Linked DNA regions of Homo sapiens. The protein of the gene in region 4 purifies or fractionates together with the protein of the main gene of each other region. This does not show direct contact. Each region holds a gene or a part of one and is shown on either strand. Other genes may lie near its edges.

The links.
Region 1: the proteins of DUSP22 (region 4) and C12orf75 purify together in Homo sapiens (affinity purification with mass spectrometry; 2 studies listed by BioGRID and IntAct, with this or other methods). This does not show direct contact.
Region 2: the proteins of DUSP22 (region 4) and MOSPD1 purify together in Homo sapiens (affinity purification with mass spectrometry, with the first as the bait; one large-scale study listed by BioGRID). This does not show direct contact.
Region 3: the proteins of DUSP22 (region 4) and SVIP purify together in Homo sapiens (affinity purification with mass spectrometry; 2 studies listed by BioGRID and IntAct, with this or other methods). This does not show direct contact.
Region 5: the proteins of DUSP22 (region 4) and GNA14 purify together in Homo sapiens (affinity purification with mass spectrometry; 2 studies listed by BioGRID and IntAct, with this or other methods). This does not show direct contact.
Region 6: the proteins of DUSP22 (region 4) and RAB5A purify together in Homo sapiens (affinity purification with mass spectrometry, with the first as the bait; one large-scale study listed by BioGRID). This does not show direct contact.
Region 7: the proteins of DUSP22 (region 4) and GAPVD1 purify together in Homo sapiens (affinity purification with mass spectrometry, with the first as the bait; one large-scale study listed by BioGRID). This does not show direct contact.

Annotation. Positions count from the first base shown.
Region 1 is NC_000012.12:105,347,240-105,351,372, reverse strand, and holds part of C12orf75 (overexpressed in colon carcinoma 1 protein), read right to left. Parts: intron 2,772-4,133; coding exon 2,747-2,771; intron 1-2,746.
Region 2 is NC_000023.11:134,894,475-134,898,607, forward strand, and holds part of MOSPD1 (motile sperm domain-containing protein 1), read right to left. Parts: intron 2,561-4,133; coding exon 2,343-2,560; intron 1-2,342. UniProt on the Homo sapiens protein: Plays a role in differentiation and/or proliferation of mesenchymal stem cells. Proposed to be involved in epithelial-to-mesenchymal transition (EMT).
Region 3 is NC_000011.10:22,819,288-22,823,420, forward strand, and holds part of SVIP (small VCP/p97-interacting protein), read right to left. Parts: intron 3,847-4,133; coding exon 3,832-3,846; coding exon of another isoform or gene 3,825-3,831; 3' UTR 1,050-3,824; coding exon of another isoform or gene 1,029-1,049; 3' UTR 1-1,028. UniProt on the Homo sapiens protein: Negative regulator of the ER-associated degradation pathway (ERAD) of misfolded proteins. It competes with AMFR/gp78 for binding VCP/p97, and inhibits AMFR/gp78-VCP/p97 complex formation that is required for degradation of ERAD substrates.
Region 4 is NC_000006.12:347,786-351,918, reverse strand, and holds the end of DUSP22 (dual specificity protein phosphatase 22), read right to left. Parts: intron 3,817-4,133; coding exon 3,645-3,816; intron 3,151-3,644; coding exon 2,968-3,150; 3' UTR 1,098-2,967; coding exon of another isoform or gene 1,051-1,097; 3' UTR 564-1,050; downstream 1-563. UniProt on the Homo sapiens protein: Dual specificity phosphatase; can dephosphorylate both phosphotyrosine and phosphoserine or phosphothreonine residues. Activates the JNK signaling pathway.
Region 5 is NC_000009.12:77,645,351-77,650,068, reverse strand, and holds the start of GNA14 (guanine nucleotide-binding protein subunit alpha-14), read left to right. Parts: upstream 1-1,746; 5' UTR 1,747-2,275; coding exon 2,276-2,399; intron 2,400-4,718. UniProt on the Homo sapiens protein: Guanine nucleotide-binding proteins (G proteins) are involved as modulators or transducers in various transmembrane signaling systems.
Region 6 is NC_000003.12:19,953,524-19,957,656, reverse strand, and holds part of RAB5A (ras-related protein Rab-5A), read right to left. Parts: intron 1-4,133. UniProt on the Homo sapiens protein: The small GTPases Rab are key regulators of intracellular membrane trafficking, from the formation of transport vesicles to their fusion with membranes.
Region 7 is NC_000009.12:125,362,596-125,365,669, reverse strand, and holds part of GAPVD1 (GTPase-activating protein and VPS9 domain-containing protein 1), read right to left. Parts: intron 3,065-3,074; coding exon 2,924-3,064; 3' UTR 1-2,923. UniProt on the Homo sapiens protein: Acts both as a GTPase-activating protein (GAP) and a guanine nucleotide exchange factor (GEF), and participates in various processes such as endocytosis, insulin receptor internalization or LC2A4/GLUT4 trafficking.

The DNA.
Region 1 (4,133 bases), on a different chromosome or scaffold from region 4:
CCATTTTCCCACAAAGACTTTCCTGTGGTCTGCATAATATTGTGTTTGCCCTATTCTAAGTTCTTTACTCTCAGTACTTATTCTACTATTTTGGCCAATCCTTCTGGTTTGGGAATCAGTCTGTTTAGATTTTAAAAAAAAATTTTAATGTGCATAATAAAAAAATTAAGTGTCATCTTAATTTCTTAGCTCGTCATTCATTCATGGCATCACCTAATATTACAGTCAAGATTTATAAATCTATAGCTTCCACTTAAAAAATTGAACGTGCCTGAATATACCTTTTGTGTAAGGAAAAGTAATATTATAATGTTCTTTAACTTTTTCCAGGTAAATCCACTGCATTTGTTTTTAAAAGGTCATTTATTTAATAAATTACTTTATTTTAAAGTTATAGGACATAGAATGAGGTATAGTCAAGGGAAATCTGAAGAATTCAGGATTCTAAATAGTGAAATAGTTAAGTAGTTAAATGGCATCTCGCATCCTGGAACGGTTAATTCTGTTGACAAAATCATCACTAAATTTTATTAGAAAAAGAAAGATGTCATGAAATCACTCTGTCCTTGAAAAGCAATGATGGAACTGATTCAACAACTATTTATTCAACACAAACTATGATCAAAGCATGACATGAATAACTCTAGAGCACAATAAAATGGGTAAGGTATTGCCCCACTCTCAATCCTCAAGGGAAAAAAGACAAGAACATGAAGAACTACGATATAAACCCAACACGATGCCCCACAAGAAAGGTCCAAAATGCTGTGAAGGTTCTGAGGAGAAAGACACACTATGCAGCTCAGAGAGCCAGGAAATACTTCTCACAAAGGATAACACACATGCCCTACAGAACAGATGTCATTTCTATAAACAGAAAGGGAAAGGGAAAGGGCCACTCCAGGCAGTGGGCACAGCAAAACACAAGGACAGGAGCAAGAAGCATGAGGTCGCAGAAGCCCCTGAGAACAGTGGCCTGAAGAAGCTCTGCACAGCCCTCCCAGCCCTGGGCTCTGCTCACTCTCCACTGTAGCATCTCCTCCCACGCCATGCGAGCCAGTCGGTTTGAGGCTAAAACATAAATGCTCTTCCTATTCCTAATAAATCCTGGGTTCAGTCCAGAGGACGATGGGAATAATTGAAAGGTTTTGAGCAGAGGTCCTATGCAAGTGCAGGGCAGTGCTTGAGGAAAATTAATCTGGCAACACATATAGAAATTGAAGGGAGAGACTGAAGGAGAAACCAAAATATTGCAATAATAGGAATACGGTCAGGGTGCAGTATTCACTGTTGCTAAATGTTTACGTAATAAACTCCAACACAGCAAACAGGAGCTAGAAGCCATCAATTACTGCTTCCTTTGTATCTAAAGTCCTAATTTTAAAATGCATATTTAAATATTTAATTCCCAGAAAGCTTTACAATCCCATTCTCATCTTCTCTAAATTCTTTGTAATAAGAAATAAGAAAGTCTGACTCTTTTTTTTCTTTTTTTTGAGACAGAGTCTGGCTCTGTCACCCAGGCTGGAGTGCAGTGGTGTGATCTCGGCTCACTGCAACCTCCACCTTCCCAGTTCAAGCAATCCTCCTGCCTCAGCCTCCCAAGTAGCTGGGATTACAGGGGCCCACCACCATGCCTGGCTAATTTTTTGTATTTTTAGTAGAGACAGGGTTTCACCATGTTGGCCAGGTTGGTCTTGAACTCCTGACCTCAAGTGATCCACCCGCCTCAGCCTCCCAAAGTGCTGGGATTACAGGCATGCGCCACCATACCTGGCCCTATTTTTGGTATTTGACCATTGAAGGCTTTTGAGCCCCATCACTCCCCTTTTGCCCCACATCTGTGTAAGCCAATAAGAAAGTGGGGGCACTTCTTCCCTGTGCCAGCAGGAAGATCAAACCTCTGCCCATTCATAAGTAGCCTCACCCCAGCCCACTCTCCAACCAAAATAAAAACTAGACCCGTTTGGATGGCTGCCCTGCTCTCCCCAGAAAGCCTCATGTGAGCAATACATCTTTCCACACCCTCCTGAGATGTGGTGAATCAGTCTTGACACCCAACCCAGTTTTGGGTGGGAGAGTTGATCCCACCCTTCACTGGGTAACCAGAAATACTCTTAAAGAGTGAACTGCTGTAGTGTCCTTGCTATAGCTAGATTAGAGGCAGGAGGATGCAGAGAGAAGGGGCATGGAAATCCTGAATGCTCCTGAGCTCCAGATCTCTCCACAGGGAGATGCCCATTATTAAATGCCCTGTGCTCTAAAGATAGCTCAATGGTGACTATGTTGAATGGCCCTATATATTCATTCGAATATCTAGTTATCAACTTTAAAACAATTCAATGTACACTTGGTAACTGCTTGGCCCCAGCCTTTCCTCCCCAGCTAACTCTAAAACACTGCGTAGTCATAGGAGCTACATGCTTATTTCTCCTATAATCACTTGCTTTTAACTAAAAGAAAAAAAAAATCTCTATACCAGTTGGGATGGAAAACACAATTCAACATTTCCCCTTCTTAAGATCCTGAGTTAAAGTGCCCAGGCAACTGAAAAGCTAATGAAAAGCACAAAGAACCCTCTCTGAATAGCACTTTAGTTACAACGATCATCTTGACATGTGCATTATACACAAAGTATTTCCATGTCTTTTCAGCCATACCCACAGAGATCTAAAGGTCATAATCATGAAAAACAGCAACTTCCTCAGAAAGACAGCTTATAAAATCATTAATATTCAATACTTACACATCTTTGGCTGCTCCTGCAGGGCCTAGAGAAAAAAAGAAGATAGGTTTGTATTGGTGTGATAGTATTGCTACAAAAATGTTGTCTAATACCTAATTAAAATACAGTAATATTCCTGAAGAGAAAATGGGTTTAAAAAAATTTTCAAAAACAGAGAAAGGAGGGCAAAAAAATCATAAAATTCAAATCTTTTTTTTTTTTTTTTTTTGTTTCAGATACAGTCTCACTTCGTTGCCCAAGCTGGAGTGCAGTGATGCAATCTCGGCTCACTGCAACCTCTGCCTCCTGGGCTCAAGTGATCCTCACACCTCAGCCTCCTGAGTAGCTCGGAATACAGGTGCATACCACCATGCCTGGTTAATTTTTGTATTTTTTCTTGAGATGGGGTTTCACCATGTTGCCCAGGCTGCTCTCCAACTCCTGGGCTTAAGCAATCCTCCCACCTTGATTGCCCAAAGTGCTAGGATTACAGGCATGAGCCACTGCACCGGGCCTCAAATTCCAATCTTAAATTTCAAATTTAGTTTAAGTTTCAAATCTTAGCTTTGGAATCTATTCCACCCATCTTTAACAGTTCCTGTAAATTACAAGGTGCCAGTTCTGAAAAAGATTTTACAGATCACATTAATCCAACCTCACATTTTATGAATTTTAAAACTGGTAGACTTCGAGAAACATTTTCTTTTTTAAGCCATACACCTTTTAAGTTGGTGTCTGCACGGCAGGTTAAGTCAAACTGTGCGCTAATGCAAGCAATGGACTAAATTAATTAGGAAGCCTCAAACACACCAGCCTAGCTCCAAAAAGAGTCACATGCATCTCTAACTCTGCTCCCATTGGCTTCCCATCTGTGATGGTTAATACTGAGCGTCTACTTGATTGAACTGAAGAATGCAAAGTATTATTCCTGGCTGTGTCTGTGAGGGTGCTGACAAAGGAGATTAACATTTGAGTCAGTGGACTGGGAGAGGCAGACCCACACTTAATCTGGGTGGGCCCCATCTAATCAGCTATCAGCACAGCTAGAATAAAGCAGGCAGAAGAAGGTGGAAAGAGCAGACTTGCTGAGCTTTCTGGCCTTCATCTGTCTCCCATGCTGGATGCTTCCTGCCCTCGAATATCGGACTCCATGTTCTTCAGCTTTCAGACTCTTGGACTTAGACCAGTAGTTTGCCAGGGGCTCATGGGCCTTCAGCTATAGACTGAAGACTGCACTGTTGACTTCCCTACTTTTGAGGTTCTGGGACTCGGACTGGCTTCCTTGCCCCTCAGCTTGCAGACGGCCTATTGTGAAACTTCACCTAATGATCATGTGAGTCAGTCCTCCTTAATAAATTCCCCTTCATACATTCATCTATCCTATTAGTTCTCTCCCTCTGGAGAACCC
Region 2 (4,133 bases), on a different chromosome or scaffold from region 4:
TTAGTTCAGAAAAACTTAAAAACCTGAGTTTTCCACATGTTGGAAACTACACATAAATTCCTGTAAATTTAATAGACAGGAGACTAAATCAGTCATCATGATACTCTATTAAAGAAGAAAACTTTACTCAACTTACTTCCAGGTAATTAGGCACATTGGGGTAACTACCCATAAACGGGACATGTTGGCCAGGACTGTGAATGGGGCTCTGCTGTGGTATCACCTTTCCTCTAAACAGCTGTCATAGCCATGAAAACCTTGTAAGCCAAAACAAAACAAAACAAAAAAACCATTCCCACAGACCCTCACCAGACCTGAAGTCCAGCCTTCCTAGCTCAGCCCATTTACAAGTTCATTATGTAACTTCTCTGTGCCAGGCCCTGTGCTAGGTGCTGAGGATATAAAATTACTAGGAAAAGTGCCTGCCTTCATTGAGCTTCCTTACAGGAATGGATTAGATAATTTTTTCCCTCAAAACAGAGATCACCATGTGTTATGCTAGCATCACCTATCCTCATTCATCTGCCTACTCCAATTTTACTATTAGAAAAATTCTTTAATATACTTTAGATACCAAGGTTTGTTAGAAAACTAAAATAAGGCCAGGTGCGGGAGCTCAGGCCTGTAATCCCAGTACTTTAGGAGGCTGAGGCAGGAGGATTGCTTGAGGCTAGGTAAGACGAGCCTGGGCAACATAGCGAGACCCTGGGTGTGGTGACGAGCACCTGTAGTCCCAGCTACTCGGGAGGCTGAGGCAGGAGGATTACTTGAATCCAGGAGTTGGAGGCTGCAGAGAACTATGATGGCACCACTGCACTCTAGCCTGGGCGATAGAGAGAAACCCTTTCTCAAAAAATAAAAAATAAAATAAGACAATACATACTTTAATTATTTAGCCTTTTTAGCATGATCTTCACCTGAATTTTAATAAATTTAAAAATAAAAGGAATAAAGTTCTCCTTACATATATTTACATACACATATACCCCTAAATCTTACTCCTTATTATTCTTGGTTATTAAACCAATCTGTTAAATACAAAACTGAACTTCAAAGACCATTTTAAATTACAAGTGTAACTTCAAAAAACAAATACAAATTAAATGGCCTTCTTTGTACTAGAGGAAGTATTTTAAAAAGGGAATCTTGCATTTCATAACTATGTTAACTTTACAATATTGATCTGATAAAGTGACACTGGACAAAGGTTCTCTTTCAGCTTCAAAAGATGAAAAGCTGGTCCTGTCAGTTGATAATAGTTGCTGAGAATAAAACAATCCACTATAGGTTGGTGCAAAAGTAATTGCGGATTTTGCAATTAAAAGTAATGGCAAAAATCGCAATTGCTTTTGCACCAACCTAATAGCTACTACCTAGTCACTAGTCCTGGTATTACCAGAAAATCTAGATGGTCCCTAATGGACTAGGAAAAAACTCTTGGCTACAGTAAATCAAAGAGGCACTACTCCCTGTTATTGAAATGAACATCCTAAAACAAACAAACTGATACGACTGAATGTAACAGCAAGTAGATTTTTTTTAATCCTTCATAAAATGTTGCAATTTCAAGGACAGCTGCTATCATATTCATGTACCAGTATCACCATCAAAAAGTTTCCAGTTTCCCTGGTTTTCTATGGAAAATTTTATCATCCTCCTATTACAACAGGTTTAGGAGGAGATAATGAGAAGTTAAGAAGACGGGATAATGACGTCCAAAGAGTTGAATATGAGGGTAGTGTCAATGTTGAAAGAATATATCATAACACTTCTGAATATCTAAGCTGGAAGGAAATGAGGGCTGGAGAGGGATTCAATTAATAGCCCACAGGGGATATCATAATCTACTTAGTTTAATTAACTTCAACTTTAATGAGATTTTTTTTTTTTTCAAAATAATATGAACAGTGCACTAAGCTTGGCCTATTGCCAAACACAATCTCTCTCTTCCTTGGAACTAATTAAATGAGAAAGGATATAGGAAAGTCATGGAAACAAAAGTATAGGAACTGCCAAATTGTACTAGCTTCATAAAGTATGGTGCCTGCAGTCTTAGATATATTTATGTTTATGTTTAAATACAGATATATTTAAAAGGCTACAGCAACATCTACCCGCTCCTTACAGCCTGGTCCAGTGAGGGGTATTCCCTCCTCTCAAAGTCCACCTCCAGGCTTCTTGTTCTACTTCAGGTACCTGATTCTCTAGGTGCAGTTTTGAAGTAGTTGACCATGTTTGAAGTGGTAGATGATTTTTCTAGTAATTATTCTTAGCTGCCTGATTATTTTAAAGTTAATAATGTGTAAGACCTCAAAAGGGCTTTAAAAACAACCCAAAACTACCTGGTTGAAACGACTGCTCAAAAAATAAACTTTCAGTTAAATGTTCCTTTAATCTTTTTTCCTCTTCTTCCTTTTGTTGTTCTTTTGCTGATGGGAGAAGAGTAGCAACAACCTCTTTTCTTCCCAAAGCCTTCCTTTGGCTTTGCTCGGAAACTTGGAGACGGAATTTGTCTATTACACCATAGTGACAGGATCGAACATCTCGATGACGAATCACACTGAAAACAGCAAAAATAACAAATGCTGTTTAGATTTCTGGGGGCCGGCCAAACAGAAGGCAGTGAGATATTTTAATATATTAAACAATATTAACTGACTACAACCAAATACTCAAAAACAGAAATTTGCTAAGATGTTAAAAAATCACAGTATAACCCAAAAGAAATGAGTAATTCGGAAACATTGGATGAAAGCACATAATCTAAAACACAGAATAAAAGTCTTAAGCAAAAAAATAACAGGTAAAGAAAATTCCTTTTTGGTCAGGCGCAGTGGCTCACACCTGTAATCCCAGCACTTTGGGAGGTTGGGGCCTGGAGTTTGAGACCAGCCTATGCAACACAGAGACCCCGTCTCTACAAAAAAAATTAAAAATTAACTGGCTTGCTGGTGTGCGTGTAGTCCTAGCTACTTGGGAGGCTGAGGTAGGAAGATCCCTTAAGCCCAAGAGGTTGAGGCTGCACTAAGCTATGATCGCTGCCATAGCAAGAGAGCAAGACTCTGTCTTATTAAAAAAAAAAAAAAAAAAAAAAGAAAGAAAAAAAATTCTCTTTAGCAATCACATTTTTTTTTTTTCTGGATAACTCAGTGCAGCAACATTTACTAAATAGGAATACATGCAATTGTTTATTCCCCACAAACATCTCATAAATTTCTATTGCTACTTACTTATTGTTTAGGCAACAAACCTCGCCCTACACTTAAAATTGAATTCCATGTATGCAGGTAGAAACAAGCAATCAAATAAGTAAGTAATCCACTATTACCAGTGCAACAGAAGGCCAATAATACACCTCTACTTCTCTAAAGAGAAAAGAGTATACAGCACTGTAATTTTATTTTATTTTTTGAGACGGAGTTTCACTTTTGTTGCCCAGGCTGGAGCGCAATGGTGTGGTCTCGGCTCACTGCAACCTCTGCCTCCTGGGTTCAAGTGATTCTCCTGCCTCAGCCTCCCAAGTAGCTGGGATTACAGGCACCTGTCACCACGCCCAGCTATTTTTTTTTTTAATTTTTATTTTTAGTAGAGACGGGGTTTCACCATGTTGGCCAGGCTGGTCTTGAACTCCTGACCTCAGGTGATCCTCCCACCTCAGCCTCCCAAAGTGCTGGGATTACAGGCGTGAGCCACTGCACCCAGCCAAACACTGTAATTCTTATGGGTTTTCTGCAATTCCATTTATTTTATTTTGTTCGTACTAGGGAACACAAAACAATTAGGTCAAAGTAACACATTTATTTGGCAAGAGACTACATTTCTTTGTAATAGCTCTTGCTTACTGTGTACTGAATGAAAATTTTTAAAAATGTGCAAAAACGTTCTCAAAGATACATCATTTTATGGCTTTGAGCTGGTGAAAAAGTATTCAAAAGAAAAGAATTCTGCTTCTCATTCTCACAGAAGATTTAAACAAATACAGTGTACTTGGTAGCTTAAATTAAGGGCTGGTCAATGGATCCATCTGGTCACCACTAGTTCTAAAATAAAAATTAAATATGAACAGCTTGAACAATCATTTATCTGACACTCTAAGATGAAATTATCTGGAAGAGCTCAAATAATATTTTACA
Region 3 (4,133 bases), on a different chromosome or scaffold from region 4:
AACTCCTTGATATCTGACTTATGTAACAAGATAAATTTCAGGGAAATAGCCTAGAGAGCACCAATCTGTGTGCAAAACTAATTAGTTCCACTTGAGATAAGTTAGAGGTACTTGCAAAGAATGGATCAAACCTGTTTTGATAACTAGAAGACATTAACTCAAAACTCAACACAAATTTGGTATTATAAATATAGCCAATGCAGGCCGGGCGCGGTGGCTCATGCCTGTAATCCCAGCACTTTGGGAGGCCAAGGCGGCAGGGATCACCTGAGGTCAGGAGTTCGAGACCAGCCTGACCAACGTGGAGAAACCCTGTCTCTACTAAAAACACAAAATTAGTCAGGCGTGGTGGCACATGCCTGCAATCCCAGCTACTAGGGAGGCTGAGGCAGGAGAATCACTTGAACCTGGGAGGCAGAGGTTGCGGTGAGCTGAGATTGTGCCATTGCACTCCAACCTGGGCAACAAGAGTGAAACTCCATCTCAAAAAACAAAACAAAACCAAAAAAAGCCAATGCAATTCAGGATATAATAACAAAAAAGTATGATATCCACAGGAGTAATGTATGAATACTTAATTTGTAGGCAATAGTTATCACATTCAAAGTCAATATTTGCAAGATGAAGCATAACTAGAAGAGGGAGACTAGAACAATAAAAAGCCATATCAAATGGGAAACTTAGTGTTTTGAGTTACTGGAACCAAAACTTCATCAAAGTCTGTTATACATACAAATGCCTTGTGTCTGTAGCTTTTGAGAAAATTGAAGAAAAAAGCCACAATACTATATTTGAATTAGCTTAGAGCATGTTTAGTAGTTAAGAGAATTTGAAATGCTTGCTTGGAGATGTTAAAGAAATATACCTTATGTCTCAACACATATAGGCAGTCATGGCTACTTACCTCTTACTGGTCTATTCATGCAGAAATTATTCAAAACTGGCAAGAGCTGCTTTTGTCTTCTAAGAACATAGCATAATGCTTATCAGTGAAAATAAAAAGTCAAACATTTGGAGAAAGGGAAAATTCAAAGTTCATGTCCATTTTCCTGGGGTACAAAGGATAGACAGAATTTTTATGATAGTATTATTTCTTTAGGAAAAAACAGGATACTAATTACATCATTTTTCCTTTATAGAAAATCCACCTATAAATCCAGGGATTGTATGAACACACCAAACAACCTTTGGTTCTGTTGCTCTTCTGAATCCCAATGTGATTAAAATGTTCCTGAGGTTTCCCTAACCACCAACTCAGGTTCTAAGTATTTAGGATGTAGTAAAGATAAAATTTTGTTAAAGAGACAGCTAAAGCTAATTTTTACATAGAAAAAAATGTATATTTATATCCCTAAAAGGCAATACAGAATTTATAACCAAACCATGTGTGAGAACTGTTAAATTACATTCCAAATACCAGCAGTGGAACAAACAGAAACACAGAGATGTTTTAAAAAACATGCAGCACGTTACAAAGAGGCCGTGTAATAATTCACAACTTTTGTTAGCAGCCGTTAAGTTTGATTAGTATTAAGCAGCAATGGTTTAAGCAATTTTAAATCATGATATGATAGTTACATATATGCATTTTACTGTTCCAATTATAGTTTAGTAATAGGTCAGGGGTTTGAGCAACATTTTAAGCATTATAATTTTCTCCTAAATTATTTACTATGGGAAATTGGCTTCCACTTAAGGTTTTCATAGAAACTGATGGTTATTTTATGAGGGAGATGTCTGGACGTATGTGTGTATGTGCATGTGTGTGTGTGTATATACACACACATATATAAATTAGAATTTGCAGATATTATGTGTATATATATACACACATATATAATATATATATTATATATATATATAATTTTTTAGTCATGTTTTTAGTCATTTGCTTTTTTTTTTAGTCATTTACCGGTTTCTCATAAGACATCCAGTCACTTCTTTTCCCTTGCCCTTTCCTAACACTGTTCCTAACATTTGGGTACCACCCCTTAGCTCCTGCGACCCATGTGGTTTTGGAGAAAGCTGATCACACTCACGGTGACAGGCCATGGTTGGAAGTAACATGTTCCACTTTTCACGAAAAGTAATAGATCTGAATATCATTCATGGTTAACAATAGATAGTGTGACATTTGGGTATGACCTGCTGGTAGAAATAGGGCATGATTCCCTGGAAGTAAGTCACTTACACCAACCCAAGTTCTAATTCTTTAAGATGTAGTAAAGACAAAATTGTTCTTGCTATATTAAAATGGAAGAAAGGATTTGCAGAGTTCAAGGATGATATGCTCTAGCTCTATATGCACTCCGCTATCAATCATTCCTTTTACTTTCTGCCTTGAAAAAATCATTTTAATAAAATCAAAAATTTTCATTCTAAAATATAGTTCAATGATTTCACTACCCTTTATGAACAAAAACAGCACGAATCCTCTAAAGAAGAAAATTGAGCCAAATTGTTATGTTTTGCCTAGATATTCACACAATATTTCACACCATAATAGAAAAAATAATTTTTCCATGAGAAGTCAAGAGACCTGTATTATATAATAGTTCAAACTTTTAAAAATTAACATGTACAATACACTGCAGTATAACATAATTTTTGTTGGAGGGGTAGATGAAGATAGTGGCTCAGTTTCCTTTGTGTAAAGCAAGTGAACTTGGTCGATTTAACTTAAAATTTCTATTAGCACTTAATATCTGCAAATTTTAATTTAGGGCTCAACATGTGGCCTTGCCATTTAAAAGAGCTATCAGCCTTAATAGCTAACACAAATTCTTTTATTTCAGTGTATTATATAGGAGAAACAAAAAATGCTATAAAATTCATGTTTCTAATGAACAAAAATGTTAAGGTTTATGACTATGCATTGTATAGAATTACCTAATATTTTTATATCTGAAGTAGACCTTTTGTAAGTACAGTACCTACATGTTTTTTTCATACATTCATACTTGCCTTCGCAGTTTCACATCTGTATAAATCTTATGATCGTTCTCTAATAAGTACACAAGATTAACACTACTTATGAAATATGGACAAATATATTACTACTCATTATAACCCATCCAGATTATTAGTTTAACTCATTCAATTACTACAAAGATCCTTACAGAGCTGAATTTAATATACAATAGAACATCACTGCCCTCTGATGGTATCACTAATATATAATTTTAAATTCAGCAAACAAAAAATCCTTTATCATAAAGTAAAACAGGGTATGTTAATTTTATAAGCTACATAAATAAAAATAAATTGGAAAAAATTTTACATCTGCCTAAGAATACTCATTACTAAGTTATAAAAATTTACAGTGCTCCTTCACATCAGCCCTTCAAATGATTTTTTCAAGATTCTCCCTGATGATCAGTTTAAAGGCACTAAGTCCATAAGTTTAATCAAACATCTTCATAGTGAAATAAAAACAGATGTAACGCGATGCAGCACAAATATAAGTAGTTAGATCATTTTATAAAGGATGAAAAGACAACTGCGAATTTTAATCTTAGAGGTATATGCAGAATGTTTACATGCAGTGTATGTATATTCACTATTTAGTTCCATTTTTTAACTACTAAGAAAAATAGCAAATCACCCACTAACTGCAGAAGAGCAAATGTAGGAAAATCAGTATTTAATGAAAAGTCTAGCCATTCTCTAAGCTTGAAAATCAACGTTTTTTTAGCATTGCACTTAAGGGCAATAATATTACAAAGTCTGAATCTTCATTTACTCAAAGAGAAGAAATTAAATTGATGAAGCCCACTTGATTGCAGATAATAAACAGTTATTGGCAGTAGATTCTTCTACTCATGTTATGCTTTATGAAACTGTCCACTAGAAAAGATAAAAAAGAGACAGAAAAGTAAATTTTACTTGAAGTTATATAACAGTACTTCAGTGAACAAACAGGTAAAAAGAGGAATATGGGACATAGAAATACAAAATGATTTTTCTGAATAGCAGCTATTCATAAAATTTTACATTATAGTCCAAAGCCTGAAATAAGATGATAGTTTAAAAGCATAAAGAAGACAAAATATCTGGTCAGATTGGTGGGTAGTTGCAGGATAGCTCTGTCTCACTGTCTTGCCTGTAGTTTTCAAGAGTAACTGTAGAATGTG
Region 4 (4,133 bases):
AGCTTCAAGGCATCAGAATCTACATAAAGTCTGCCACCTACAGTCAACCAGCTCATGAGTTCACTTGCCTTTAGATCAACCCAAACTTACCCTAGCAGCGTTAAATTTCCCTTTTCCTCCACCAGATCAGAGAAGGAAAATTTTACAAATTGACTTAAATTTCTCGTCAATTCAGGTGACGTTCCCTCAGATTAAAAGCTGAAGATGGAATGAGAGTAGCTGTGTTCAATGCTGTGCGGCAGATGCACACGGCGCGGCTGGCTGCATGCTCCTGGGCAAACACAACTCGTTCCAGGTGCCGAATACGCCGCTCCCACCGTGCAGGCAAAACAGAACTAACTCTCATGTCCACATTTCCTTCGCCTCACACTCATGGCCTATTTTTCTTTCTTGGAGACATGAATTCACCTTTTGTAGCATCTGCTATAGCGCCTTCTGGAGGCAAACAATAGCCTCTAAAATAAAACCAGGAGTAGGCTTCAGTCTTGCCTTGGAATCCCTCACAGGCAGAAGGGCGCGTGGTGACTGCCCCTTGGCTAGGGAAGAATGCATCGCACGCGACCTTAAACTTGGCTAAGTTGCCCTTTATTAACGAAAACATAGAGCTTTCGGTCAATTCCACCACGGAGAACACAAACCAGAGATAAAACCCACACCAAGGGCTATTTCCCAAGCTGGGGAATTTGAGAACACACGGGCAGAGTTCACGCCACACAACTACACTGGGCTCGTCCTTGGGAGGCGTTCACAGGAAGCAATCACGAGCGCCAAGCCACCCACAAGGCAGTGCGGCAAGGCTCCCGGGATCCTTACAGGCATCCAAGCGAGGTACAGAAACCTCCACAGCAGTGGGGATAAGGGGAAAATATTTTCTCTTGCTAAAGAATATCCTTAGTTCTCAACATAAACATGACTACGTATATATTCAGCTTCAAATGAAAAACAAGTTTACAAATCACTACTGGATACTTAAACTCTATGTTGCTTTTCTTTTTGGCAGCACCAGCCTAAACTCTGTGGGTTTGCAATATTTCAGAAACTTCAGGTACATTACAGTCTTCTGAGAAAGGCCCAGAACTTCAGAATTCCCGGAGCGGCTGTGAAGAAAGAACATTACTGGCAACAAATATTAAAACAACATTTCAAGAACTCCAAGAATACACTGAGAGGTTTGTAAAGGTGCACATATTTAAGCATTCAAGCTATATCCTAAATCATTTTTCTGTTAACGTATTTATTTTTGGCTTAGGAAAAACATGTACTTTATTGGCAAATTGTTTTAGCTGTAGACGGATGGATGATTCTACAGCCACACTCCCCTTTCCGGGTGTACATCCGGGGCCTGTGCACCTGCGCGGAATCAGGCAACTTTGTTTTTCCCGGTCCCCAAAAAGCTCACCTTTGACACACCCTCTATATGCACAGGAAAACTGCTCTTCTTATTCAGGGTCTCTTTTTGTGGTGGAATTCAGAGAAACTGGGTTGCAACATCTTTTTAGGGAGAGGTCGAGTATGTTTTTTCATTCGAGTGACTCTGCATGCTTAAGGAATCTGAGTCGGTATAAAGGACTAGACCACTGAATTGCGTACAGCGTCCCAGGATGCCTGCAGCCCCAGAGTACAAACTGTAGATGCTCTCGTGGCCTGAATGTGGAATTTTACCCACCAGAAAGCATTACTGGAGCCCAAACTGGCAACTTTAAATAGCTCAATGATATCGGTACCTTCCCCTTTGGTTTCAAAAGCAATCATGACCGAACATTTTCAACTGTGAGGCAAAGCTGACTTGCATACCAAAAAACACCTTTCCAAAAACATTCAATGAGGTAGCTCAGATCAATTATCAAACCCAAGTGAATACCAAGAAGCTTAATAAATGCTCAGGCATTTTAAAATGCAAATTGCTACAGTGCCTAATAAATGCTCTTTCTTCCCAATTCTTGCAGGTGCATGCAAATGTTGAGGAGGAGCCCCTGCAAAGTGAGGACAGCGAGAGGCTGGGAGTGAATGAAGCTGGCAAGGAGCAGAGAGGAGGGGGTGCCCTGGGGCACCCAACTTAGGCTAAAGTGCGCCTGCCCACCACAGAGCTCAAGTGCAATCAGCTCCAGAGAACAAACACCAAGTAGAACTCAGGGCTCGATGGGCTGAAAAGTGGCCTTGACTCAAGGCGCTAGGGAACCCTCAGCCTGGTGCATTCACATTGAGATGGAGGCAATCTAAGATACTTCCCTTAAATGCTGAGTTGGTATAAAGTGCTGGCCCACTGGACCAGCTCAGGGCAGTCTCTCACGTTTTCCAGGGCCCCAGAGCCACCCTCCCTCTAGAGGAGTCTGGCCCCTGTTGCCCCCACCACACCACCCTGGGTGGGTTCTGGGAGAGGCCATGCTCTTAGCCACTCGTCCCCTGAGTTCTCACGGTCTGCTCAGAGGCACAGACTGCTCTTTGCTGGGTAGCTTTTCGGAGGTCGAGCTCAAATGCCTTCCATGTGGAGTCTTGGACAAAGGGAAAGGTGGCCACACCAACCCGGGCAGCAATATGAATTCTGTGACTTCCAGCAGTAAGAAAGAGTTCACACACACACAAACATTCATGTGCACAGACACTTTCACAACATACACACATGTACACACTTAGGTGCACATACCCTCACTCACACAGGCACACACATGCATCCACTTAGTCACCCACACACAAGTGCACTCACACACACGCACGTGCACAGAGCAGTGCACAGCCACTGGGCAACATCCCCAGGGGCAGCAAGCTCAGGTGCAGCCAGGGTAGGGGTGGGCGGAGTGCAGGGGCCTGGAGCAGGGCTGGGCGGTGTTGCTTGGGGGAAGGAGCCCTCGCCCCACCTCGCCCTGGCTATCTCCCTTTCCTGTCCTCATCGGCCACCACCACCGCACCCCTGCCCAGCCGGGCACACTGAAGACAAGCAGTGGGAAGGAAGGCAGCAGGTCGCTTGCGTTAGGTCTCCGTCGTATAATTATCGTAGGTCAGCGGAGCCAGTGCCGGAAAACTGCTCCACCGCCTGGCGCCGGGCTGGGGCTCTGTGCGCCCTTGCTCCTTATATTTACCCAGAATGTTTTTGGCTTCTTCTGCATCCTGCAAAGGGCTCTCTCCATATTCTTCCTTCAGCCACTGCCGATACTGGAGAGGATGGAAACAAACCCGAAACGTCACACACATGTGCACGTCTGCATCCACGTGGGCTTGCACCTGTGACTTCACCACAGAGATGGTGCCACACATAACCAGGGAAACAAACAGCAGTGGGAAATCAGAGCTCTGTGGTTGGCCAGCCAGGGTCAAGCAAGAGAAGGAACTGCTCCTTCAAGGTGCTGGCCTAGGACATGAAAATAGGCCAGACCAAGGAAATGGTACGTCACCCAAAGGGAGAGAAACAAACTAGTAGGGAGTACCAGGCACAAGGAGAATGACAAAGGGTAGGCGCCTGTGGCTTCAACAGGTGCACGAGGGATCGTGACGACTTCTGAAGGGGTGCAGCTGGGCGCCCTGGGAGCCGATGTCCTCTGTGGGCCTTTCAACTCCAAACGCCATGATGCTGGCTGTGTACGGAAAGACTGTGGGCACCGTTCAGGGGCACCTGCCTGCATCTCTGATGTCCCCTAAGAACTGCTTACCTGATGGACCTCATGCTTCTCAAACTCCTGGAGCTGTCTCTGGAAGCCCACGTTGGGGTTGGCACAGGATCTCCCAGCACGCACGGTGTGCAGGGCATCCTCCCAGCCAAAGTCAGTGACGGTCATGATGTATGCGATCACCAGTGTCACGCTCCTGGAGACCCCGGCCAGGCTGCGGGGCCAAGAGAAGCACATGTGTGAGGGCAGTTTCAGATCTCCGGGTTCATCGCCCAATCCATGTGGAGCGGGGGACTCTAAGGACCTTGTTCAGAAAGTCTTCCTGCCTTGGATTATATGTGGACAGCAAGCTCGCCACCAGGAAGCCACTCAGCACTCAACGTACCAGCTCCCTATGCTTCCTGGCACTAGAATCGCATGCTTTCTTCTGCTGTTTGAGCTTCTTTTATTGGTTTTCTATGGGCTGTGGCTCCAGATGCTCCCTTGCTCCTCAGCCCCTCCTCAGGTCTTTCCCATTTCCCCGGACAAACG
Region 5 (4,718 bases), on a different chromosome or scaffold from region 4:
TTTTGTTGTTGTATTGGCAATAAAACCTTTGCATCAGTCATGAGGCTTCTTTCTAGTTATTTCTTAAGGGAGAAATTACTGGTTTGGCCGAAGGGGACGGACATGTTTAAGGCTTCAGATATATACTGCCAAGCTGACTAGCCCAGGAAAGTTGTACAGATTTGCCCTAATCAATATGTTTCATAACTGTTTTTGAAATCTTGCCAACTTTAAACCTAATAGGTCAGTATCAGTAATTCCCGTTAACGTAAGAGTTCAAATTTGCCCTAGTTTTAATCATTTAAAAATTTTTTATAATTTTTAAATGATAACAATTATGATGCAACCATGACTTTGAGAAGCCAAGAGATCTTATTCTCAAATTGTAAATGAATCCGTAAGAGCTAAGAGAGAAGAAACAGGCTATTAAATGGCCAAAGATCAAATCTGAAATGTCCAGGAGTTTTCCTGTAGGGGTCACTGTTACTGTCAATTTATGCCTGCAAGAAAACTAAAATAGTCACACATTAAAGCATGTATGCACATTTTTAATGTCTGATTCCTCTACATTTCTTAAACTGTAAAATAATAAGAACATGCAGCCAGATAGCATCGCGATACCAACTTCTTTATATAATGACACGTACCATTCCACTCAATGTGCTCCTCAGTTTGAATTTATAAAATATATGCTACTCAAATGAAAGGCACTTATGCCTGCTCTTAGTAGAGGAAGCGCTAGCTAATTGCCTAACGCCCCATTAGCATATGGCCTATACTGACTTGAGAAGGAAAGAACGTTCATTGCTGTGGCCAATAGGATCCCCTCTCCCCACCTTCCCTTTTCTGCATCAAAATCTACACAGACAAAAGTCAGATGTTGTAATATGCATTTTATCGTGTCACTTAAGTACTAAGAGGTGCTTTTAAAGTTTTTATTAATGCTGCTCAAACTTGACCCCGACGGTCCAGGATACAGGCCAAGGTGTCAGTGCGGACACAATCGCAAGGCGGCTGTTAGGCTTCAGGGCTGGGCAGGAAACTTGCCAGGTGCTACTAGGAACGTATCAGCCCTTTCTACAAAGCAGGTGTCTTTCCCATCATAAAATGCAAAGCAATCAGCCGTTCCCTTTCTCCCCAGCCCCCTCGTCCGGAGACCGAGAGGATATTTACCCTGGGCTCTTGCAGTTCTCTTATAACTGAACCCAGCGGCGGCTCCTTCTCCGAGCTCAGAGCCAGCAGGCTCAGGCCCAGCCACACTTTACAGGCAAATTGCCGAGCTGACCAAGGGCTTTGGCCAAGCCCGAGCTGGGCCGGGGCGTCCGGGAAGCGGAAGGAGCCAGTCTAGGAAATCCGGGTGTGCGTGGTGGTGAAGCTGGTGGGCAAGCTTCCACTTCAGGTCCGGGGCTTTGTGTCCCGCAACAGACGCTTGGCGCCGCTCCTCTTCCAGCCTGCTGCCGCCTTCTCCGAGCGAGTGAGTTGGCGAAACTCACTCACCTGTCGGAACCCGGTGCCTGGCGGCCAGACGCGCAGATTACAGCAAACCTTGGCCGGGACGCCCCAGCCAGGGAGGCAAGTGTGGGAGCTGCTCCTAGAGGTGCCAGCTCCCACCCCCAGCTCCGCGCCCCCTGCTCGTCCCCTTTCACTTCCAGGCGCCTTCGGCTTGGGGTGCCCAGAAGGGCAAGTCCAGCAGACGCCAGGGCTGCAGGTTCAAGATGCTCCGCCTCCTCCTGCCACTTAGAGCCACAAACGCTAGCGGGAACCTTTCCACTCAGTCTTAGTCTGCGGTCACTGCTGAGGTTTTCAGAACTTTCCAGGCAAAGGCCAGCCAGGTCCTTTGCCTCCAACCCACTCCGCGCCTACCTCCCGCCTGGGGACACCCCTAGGCCCAGGAGATCCTACTCTCCCCCGAGCACCGACGTTCCAACTCGTCTGCGCCCCCGACTGCTGTCCGGCTCCTGTGCCAAGGGGCGCGCGCATCTTCCCGGGGCCAGCAACGCTCCCAACTTCTCGACTCGCCCTCCTCCTCCCCAGAGCGAGAGTGGGGCGGGCTGAGCCCGGATCCGGGGTGCACTCGAGCGTTCCCAGCGCTCGGCATTCACCCCGCCTCAGAGCCGACTTTCGAAGGGGGATTGAGCCTCGGAGGTCCAGGCGTCTTACTCCAAAGCTCAAGTCGGCCCCCGTCTTTTCTTTCCACACCCCTGTGCCCGTCGCATGCTGGCCGGGTGAGCGGCCGGGCCGAGGATTCGGGTGCCCGGGGCCGCGTCGCCCCGTCGGGTACTGAGCTGAGCGCACCATGGCCGGCTGCTGCTGCCTGTCCGCGGAGGAGAAGGAGTCGCAGCGCATCAGCGCGGAGATCGAGCGACAGCTTCGTCGGGACAAGAAGGACGCGCGCCGTGAGCTTAAGCTGCTGCTGCTGGGTGAGTGGCTGCGTCTCCGACTCCAGTGAGCCGGGCGTTTTTCTTCCGAGCCCTCCCGGCCTCTCCACTGGCACCCGCGCGGCCCTGGAGCCCAGCGGGGTGCAGGGCGGCTTCGTCCTTCTCCCCCTCGGAGCTCACGGATGCCAGCAACTTGGGGCCTTAGGTGCCTGTTCTTTCCATCTCTGGCTGGGCGACTTGCAAAAGCAACACCTTCCCCTGCCCCAAAACAGGATAGGGACCTGTAACACTTAACCTCTTGACCGCTGTACCTTATGTGTTCCGGTGTGCCCCTCTCCTCAAAACCCCGTCCACTCCTCCGCCCGCAGCACACCCAGCTTGGGGTCTGTGGTGACCCACATCTTGGGTTCAGCGCTAGCTCTGACCCGTACGCTTTCAGTTCTAGATGAAGCATCTTGAGAATTTACCATGTGCCAGATCGTGCTAAGTTCTTAAGGGCATCACCACCTGGTGATGCGGGCAGGTGATATCGCTATTCTAGAGAATTAAAACATGGAGGCCTGGAGAACTGACCAACTTGCCCTGATTGAGAAAAGGCAAAGCCGATGCTAGGTCAGCTGTGGGGGTGAAGCCCATGCCGTTGCTGCTCCTCTGACCGTGAGCTCCTATGCCTGCCTCCCATGGGGGTCCCTCAGGCCTTTGTGTTTGCAGCGGACCCAAACCTCCCTTGCCCAGCTTGACTCAGTGTGTCCACGTCCTAGGATTCAGCTTGGCTGCCCTGGTGCCTCTGGCAGGTCTTCATCCAGCTCTTTTGGTGTCTCTGCAAAGGTCTGGGTAGGACATCCACTTTCAAACACAGAAAGAACACAGTTTAAGGTTTGCCCAAGTTATGCCATGAGGCAAGGATCCCATCTCAGACTTTCTAGAACGCTGTCAACACATTTGCTGTTTGAGGAATATTTTACCTTTTCTACCTTTCAGACCATGATATCAGCTGTCAATTTTTTTCTAGATAGCCACAAAGATTTCAACTTTTTTTCTTTCACCCCTTTTGAACAGGAATCTTCTCTTATACCATCTATTTATTCATCTTTATTCCTTGTATAGGAATCACCCTCCCAGAAAGCTTCAAGGAAAGAAAAAGTTGATCTAGTTAGTGTAATATAGAGAAGGCTCTCAGCCAGTATGGCCTTCAGACCTGGGCGGAAGAACCCCCTTATCCTTATCCCCTGGGTTTAAAGGGCCCAGTCTGGCCTTCTGGGGGTTGGGGGGGGGTGTGCCCCTCCCCACAGAGCTGGAAGTCTGTAGGTCCAAAGGGGCTTGCTACCCAGAGACCATGCTGCCCCCTCCCTCCCAAGACCTGGATGGAATGAATACCCAGCCCAAAGGGACCCATACCAGCTTCTAAGGCCTGAGCCCTAGAAAAGAAGGCAGACCTGATCCCTGGAGAGCTCACAAAGGGGCAGCTGTTTGCTGGGGCGTAAAAGTGCTTGGAAATGTGGGCTGGGTAGGAGTGGAGGGAGTCCCCGTGGGTGCCCAAGAGGCCCCCCTAGGAGAGAGGGAGCTTGGGTGGGGAAGGGAAGGGGCTCTGTTCATTGGCCAGGTCTGCTATTTCTGTGTCTGACCCATAACTTTGAAAAGTCTGAAAATTCTAAATTGTCCCTGGCCTTCTAGGCTGTTATAAAGCTACCTTTGTCAAGGGAGGAGGAATACGTGAGAATTTGCTAGCTTGATTAACACTAGAAAATAACTATGGGTGCGGGGCTTTGTACTTTTGCCCTGAACCCCACAAACCAGAGGGGTTTAGTTGCGTATGTAACTTTTTTCTTTATAAGGGCAGGCTGAACCCTATTTCATTTTGCAATGCTTTGATTTGTGTCAATGTATGAAGTACAGTGTCCAGAATATACCAGGAGCTTGACAAATGCTGGCTCTTTGTATGAAAAATTGTGTAGTCAGCTGAGCTGTACTGTATTGGTAATAAGCCTGTTTGATGTAAAATTCTCGCATTTACCCACAAACTAGGGGAGAAATGTTTGTAGGTAAATTGTTTGCTCTGAAAGTCACATTAATCAGGGTGACCCGAGGGTCTTCTTTATCTTCCCAGGCCATTGCTCCAACCCTCCTCCTACCACCTTGAGGCACTGTCTGACCTCTGGAAACTCCCATTTTCATCTTGCGGAGTTGTGACTAGCATATCCCCTTAGTGAAAACTTTCCTGTGAAAAATAGTTTCTAAACCACACAGAGCCGTTCAGAACTCCAAGGATGGACTTCAAAACCTCTGATTTATTTCAATCTGTAAAGTCCTGGGGCATAGCTCCATTTCTTCTCAAGGAAGAGCCAATGACTCAGAAGTGAC
Region 6 (4,133 bases), on a different chromosome or scaffold from region 4:
GAGTCTCACTCTGTTGCTCAGGCTGGAATGCAGTGGCGCTATCTGGGCTCACTGCAACCTCTGCCTCCCAGGTTCAAGCAATACTCATGCCTCAGCCTCCCGAGTAGCTGGAATTACAGGCATGCGCGACCACGCCCAGCTAATGTTTGCTTTTTTTTTTTTTTTTAGTAAGGATGGGGTTTGGCCATGTTGGCCAGGCTGGTCTCAAGCGATCTGACCACTTTGGCCTCCCAAAGTGTTGGGATTACAGGCATGAGCCATGCACCCGGCACTTACTATTTTTTAATGGTGAGGACATTTAAGAATTTAGCAGTTTTCAAGTACACATTATTAAGTAGTTACTGGAAAAAACTTTAATATATGCACACGTGTAGTACTTTAGCCCTGTAATTTCTCCCTCTGAGAAACTTCCACAAATAACACAGTTGGGCTGGGCACAGTGGCTTACACCTTTCATCCCAGCACCTTGGGAGGCTGAGGTGGGAGGACTGCTGTAGCCCAGGAGTTTGAGACCAGCTTAGGCACCAACAGTGAGATCTGTCCCTACAAAAAAATAAAAAATTAGCCAAGTGTGGGGTGCATGCCTATAGTCAGTCCCAGCTACCTGGGAGGACCACTTGAGGCCACGTCAAGGCTGCAGTGAGCTTTGATGCCACCACTGTACACCAGCCTGGGCAACAGAGCAGGCTGTTTAAAAAAAAAAAAAAAAAGGAAAAAAAACACAAAATTTTTCAAATCTTCAAATTTTCTAAATCAAACGCTATGCACTAGGTGTAACAGCTACCATCTCAAGATAATAGTATGTCATGACCAAACAACAAAAATATCAACAATGACAAAACGATTCAGCCAAAAGTTAACAGTGGTGATGGTAACTGTAATAGCTATAATTTAATAAACCTTTTACTGTGCCAGGCATTGTGGTAAAAACTTCAATCTGGATACAGTCTCTCTTAACCACAATAGTTTATTCTTTAGAATGACTTGGCCATAAATTGTTAGGTAAAATAGTATGTTAATAATAACTTTGAAATAAGCCTTGTTTTTCTTCATTTTAACAGTAACTTTTATTCCTGTTACAGGTTGTTTTAGACTAAAAACAACTAGTTGGCCATGCTAACCAATTTAGATGGATGTTAAATATGTAAGTAGAAACAGCACTTCACTTAAGAGTTAATAATTGCACTAAATTTCCTTTTTTTTGAGACGGAGTCTCGCCCTGTCGCCCAGGCTGGAGTGCAATGGCGCGATCTCGGCTCACTGCAACCTCCGCTTCCTGGGTTCAAATGTTTCTCCTGCCTCAGCATCCTGAGTAGCTGGGGTTATAGGCACCCACCACCACGCCTAGCTAATTCTGGTATTTTTACCATGTTGGCCAGGCTGGTCTCGAACTCCTGACCTCGTGATCTGCCAGTGTGCTGGCACCCTCCCAAAGTGCTGGGATTACAGGCATGAGCCACTGCGCCCGGCCTACACTAAATTTCTTAATTAATTTTGTGTATTATCAGGCCTTGATCATTTGTGACAAGAAAGGAGAGCAGCAGTGGTACAGATGACTGAAAACTATGGGTACTCCCTAAGTAGAGAAAAAGCAGAATACTCTTGATTGGACAGAGGGATCATACTTTCCTAAAGATGTCTGGCAGGTGGCTAACAGGAAGGCATTCTCCTATAAAGAGATACAGATAACATGTAATGTGAGCAGTACATAATACATGTAATTCTCAAACTAGGTTAGTTGCATGAACAATTTTTTTTTTAAGACGGAGTCTCGCTGAGACACCCAGGCTGGAGTGCAATGGCATGATCTCGGCTCATTGCAACAACCTCCTCCGCCTCCTGGGTTCAAGCGAATCTCCTGCCTCAGCCTCCCAAGTAGCTGGGACTACAGGCGCACGCCACCATGCCTGGCTAATTTTTGTATTTTTAGCAGAGACAGGGTTTCATCACATTGGCAAGCTGGTCTCGAACTCCTGACCTCGTGATCCGCCCGCCTCAGCCTCCCAAAGTGTTGGGATTACAGGTATGAGCTACCGCGCCCAGTCAACAATGTTTTTAAAAATCTGACAAACACCACACCTCAAAAAAACCCCCCAATTATTCCATGTATGGGTGAATCAATGTTAGTACCAATGTAAAATCAACTACTCAAACGTAACATGCCATTAGAATCATCTGGAAAACTTATTAAAACCTAGATTGTTGGTCCCACCCAAATGTTTTGATTCAACACGGGATTCTACATTTTAACAAGTTCCTAGTTAATGCAGCTACTTCTGGAAGTGGGAACGCTCTTTGAGGACCACTGTTCTAAGCTAATGTACAAAAATCACAGAACCAGCAAGAGGAATGTTATTTTCATGTACAGTTCCATCATCTAAACTTTAGAGTTTATAACACATTTTTTGATTAGTGCATACAAAATTGTAACTGTGGTATGAAGCACTTTTCTCAGAAGAGAAAAAAAGGATTGTCTGCTTGCTATTTCACTGCATATTCTAACCACTGAGGATTAATTTGTTTATAAATATCACATAAATGTCTTCTTAAAAATAAGTATTTTTTGAGAGTATTTACTGAAGAGCTACCAAGCCTAGAGATGCAGTACCAAGTAAAGAAGGAAGACAACTCTCTGAGCCTACTGCTCCCTGCTAATCTCTGGGCTAACTTTAGACCAACAATAGAAACATAAATGTCATGCAAACTTTAAACCCATACAAACAAGCTAGAATTCTCTAAATTGCTAAATCTACGGCACGCAATTTCATCAGAAGTGCTATAGGGGTAGGATGCATGAAGTATGGTGAGGCAACAGGGATTCTTTGTTTTGTTTTGTTTTTGAGACAGGGTTCTCACTGTCACCCAGGCTGGAGTGTGGTGGTGCAGTCTCGGCTCACTGTAACCTCCGCCTCTTCAGTTCAAGCAATTCTCCCATTTCAGCCTTCTCAGTAGCTGGGACTACAGGTGTGTGCCACCATGCCCGGTTAATTTTCGTATTTTTTGTAAAGACGGGGTTTTGCTATGTTGGCCAGGCTGGTCTCAAACTCCTGGACTCAAGCGATCTGCCCACCTCAGCTTCCCAAAGTGCTGGGATTACAGATGCAAGCCACCGCACACAGCGCAACAGGAATTCGTAAATCAAGTTATTGTATTTAGGAAGAACCACACAAATTACAGAAGAAATCTTGATATTCTTAATGAATCCAGAATCCACAAATCAAGAGTGTAACATATGATATCCACCTTCGAACACAATCAAATAGAGATTAAAATTTTGAGTGCTTCAGAACAATAACTCATGTTAGGAGATATAAACAGTAAAGTGAAAAATTAAACAGTTGAGGCCAGGCGTGGAGGTTCACGCCTATAATTCCAGCACTTTGGGAGGCCGAGGCAGGTGGATCACTTGAGGTCAGGAGTCTGAGACCAGCCTGGCCAAGATGGCAAAACCCTGTCTCTACTAAAAATACAAAAGTTCACTGGGATTGGTGGTGTGGGCCTGTAATCCCAGCTACTCAGGAGGCTGAGGCAGGAGAACTGCCTGAACCTGGGAAGTAGAGGTTGCAGTCAACCTAGATCACACCACTGCACTCCAACCTGGGCCACGTAGTGAAATTCCGTCTCAAAAAAAATAAACCAACAGTTGAAATGCAAAAGAGTTGGTTGGCTTCATTTTTCAGGTAACTTCTACCACATGACAGTCAAAACAAAAATACGTATTACCTACAAGTTATGGCCCTTTCAGGTTGATCATGAAATAGCTCAAACCTTAAAATTCTTAAATGCTTTACATCTACTCTAGTTCCTAAAGGTGAAGAGCTATGAGTACAGAGCATAAAAGAATAGTGTCCACAGCTATAACCATAATGGTACTGTCATACCTCCTGAATAGTATTCACATGGGGTCAGCACAGTGAAAAAGTATCCAATAAAGATTAACAGAAAGTTGGGCCAGGGGCAGTGGCTCATGCCTGTAATCCCAGCACTTGGAGAGCCCGAGGTAGGCAGATCACTTGAGGCCAGGAGTTCAAGACCAACCCGACCGACATGGTGAAACCCCATCTCTACTAAAAATACAAAAATTGGCCAGGAGTGGTGGCTTGCGCCTGTAGTCCCAGCTACTTGGGGGGCTG
Region 7 (3,074 bases), on a different chromosome or scaffold from region 4:
AAGACTATGTCTCAAAAAAAATTAAAATATAATTTTGTAAGTAAAGACAATCTTCAACTTGTATTTCTATTACTTCTAAAAGCAGAATATTAATACAAAATGCAAACCTGATTTTTCTTTTCCTCAGAGAAGTTAATCCTACAAGATTTCAGGGGACCTGAGCCAACTCTCTCTCCATTTAACATCCACTTTATAAATTCTATGTAGTAACTAGTGGCTGCTGAATGTTTCCTGGGCTGATTTTGTACTTTTACACTAATCTTTCATGTAAAGAAAGTACTGGAAGGCAGTGGAGGAAGAAACATTTGGGGAACAACTATTCCTCTTTTCTATTAAAAAAAAAAAAAAAAATCAAATCACTCCCCATCTCACATACCTGTCAAGAAATCAAACAGTGATGGTTAATGCCAAAGTAGTCCTTGCTCCTGACAGATTTTCAGAGGAAACCTTAGCTGCCCCTGCAACAGCTGTGCTGTGCTCCTCCGCCAGCTATGGAGTCATGAGCACCCGAACCCATTTCACAGGTGTCACAGATGTCAAATCTCTGGGGGGTCTACCCTCAGCCCCGGCTCCAACACAGCACAGCCCTATCTCCTGCCTCCAGTGTAGCCCTTCACCCCAATCCCACCACCTTCTCTTCCACAGAAAAGAGCCCCGATGCAATGTCCACATCTTCATATTTATTTCCACAGTGTTAACATGGAATAGACTTAGCAACCATTGCAGAGAAAAAAAAAATCTCTCATTGGTTTATGAGTTAAATCCTGTAACAATGAATTTCAACCATTCGAAGTCTTCTGCTGCTTAACATTTACTGAATCAAAGGCTGAAGTAAATGGACTCTCATCTAGGTCTCAGAAATCACACAGCTGGCCTCGTGATGTATTTACGATGGGATTTAACTTCTAATACAAGGCAAGTTTGACAGTTACAGCCAATGAAGTGCACGACTCTGTACATGGATTTCTTGACCTAACATTCAAAAGGACATTTCATAGTACTAGTTTAATTCTGATCTCTCTCTAGAAGGCAGAAACCACATCCCACACTCCTATGCAATTTGTTATTTTGGTATTGTAAAGTAAATGAATAAGAAGGGGTGGAGGCATAAAGAAAATCTAGTTTCTGGCTGGGCAGGGTGGTTCACGCTTGTAATCCCGCACTTTGGGAGGCCAAGGCGGGTGGATCACGAGGTCAGGAGATTGAGGATCATCCTGGCCAACATGGTGAAACCCCGTTTCTACTAAAAATACAAAAATTAGCCGGGCTTGGTGACATGCGCCTGTAGTCCTAGCTACTCGCGAGGCTGAGGCAGGGGAATCACTTGAACTGGGAGGTGGAGGTTGCAGTGAGCCAAGATCGCACCATTGCACTCCAGCCTGGGCAACAGGGTGAGACTCTGTCTCAAAAAAATAAAATAAAATAAAATAAAAACAAAGAAAAAAAAATAAAATCTTTAGGCATTCCCAGACACAAAGATCTCAGAGACAGACAACAGAGAGCCTCCGTGTTCATCTGCCCGAGGCTGTTTGTCACAGTTCCCTTAAAAGATGCCTGGAAATGCTCCCAACAACAAGGGACTCAAGTATGGGGCTGAGTTTGTTAAAAAAGCAGCTAAATGTGTTTAGGAAACACACGAAGTGAAACCAGACAGTGATGGCCCATGTACAAGACTTGTGCTTGAAGCTTTGGTGTGCCTCCATGGCCAATTTTTCAGGCACCAAAACCCATTCCTGATTAATTATTGATATACAATGCAAACCAAACTATGAAAACACAGACTTTTTTTCAGAAGAGGGAAATAAAGGCACAGAAACCTGCCAAAATAGATATTTTTTTCCATAAGAATAGTATGGTTGATTAAAATAGTTTATCACTAGTAAAACTTGTATCACTAGAGCAGACAATACAAATTAGTTTTTTAAAAAATGACATTCACTGAATTCTTGGTCTGTGCATTCAATGTGAATAATCATCAAAAATATATTACAATTAAAGGTTTGTAAGGAGCTCTGTCTGGGATTTCTGCAGTATATTATTTCGGAGGAGAAGAACCACCATAAAGTATGAGCTATCCACTGTTCCTTTTTATGTCATGTATGGTAATCAGTCTATCTCCTAATGCAGGCTCACAAACTTCCACGGTGAGATGTCTAAGTGACTTAGTGACCTTCACACTCATTAAAGGCAGCCCTGTCCATCAAACTCCATACCTAGAAAGTTCAATAAACTGTATTACATTTTAATAAATATTTCTGTGTACTTTTTGTTTTTTGCTTTTAAGCTCAGCTTAAATTTTGTCAAGGAAACCATTTCACAAGACAGTATGTCACAGCCTACTATCAGCAATAGTCCTTGTTTATTAGAATCTGCAGATGTCCATATTACATCAAATATAAATATATATTATATTTACATTTCCTTCTTAGCTTTCAATTTAGGTGAGTGTATTTATAGATAATGCCACTAACGCACCACTATTCTAATCCTCAGTGCAACTCATACCTTCTTTCCATTAGATGCTCATTAATGTAAGACAGCATCTTAAAAGAGGGGTACTGTTCTTTTTTAAAATAAAAGGAAAGAAAGGGAATCCAAGAATGGAGGTCTAGACATTTCCTAAGAGATTTTTGTTTTGTTTTTTATACTTAGAAATACTTGAAAAATGTGGTCCCTTTTTGTAGTACTAGTCTCTACTTGGGGACAAGAAAATAGAATATGCAACTCAGAAAGGAAAGAGCCCAAAGACGAGAGAACCTGCTTGTTAGCTCATTAACCTGTTTAGTAAAGATCTGCTTTAAAATGCCTGATGCTGTGCAGTATCATACAAAACAATCTTCAGCCTTCAAAGCAGCTGATGCACCTTCTCAGAGATCTGTTTGTCTGATTAACAGTCTGCTGCCTTGGTGGGCCTTGGTCTTGGTCACTTTCGGTCATCGATGGTTTTAATGAATTCTACTGCTGCTGTGAACTGCATCCACCAATAGGACTCCTCTCCAGACAGACAGCTAGCATAAAAGCTACTGATATACTGCACAGTAGACAGCAAACAGGGTGGATTTGCCTAGAGAAGT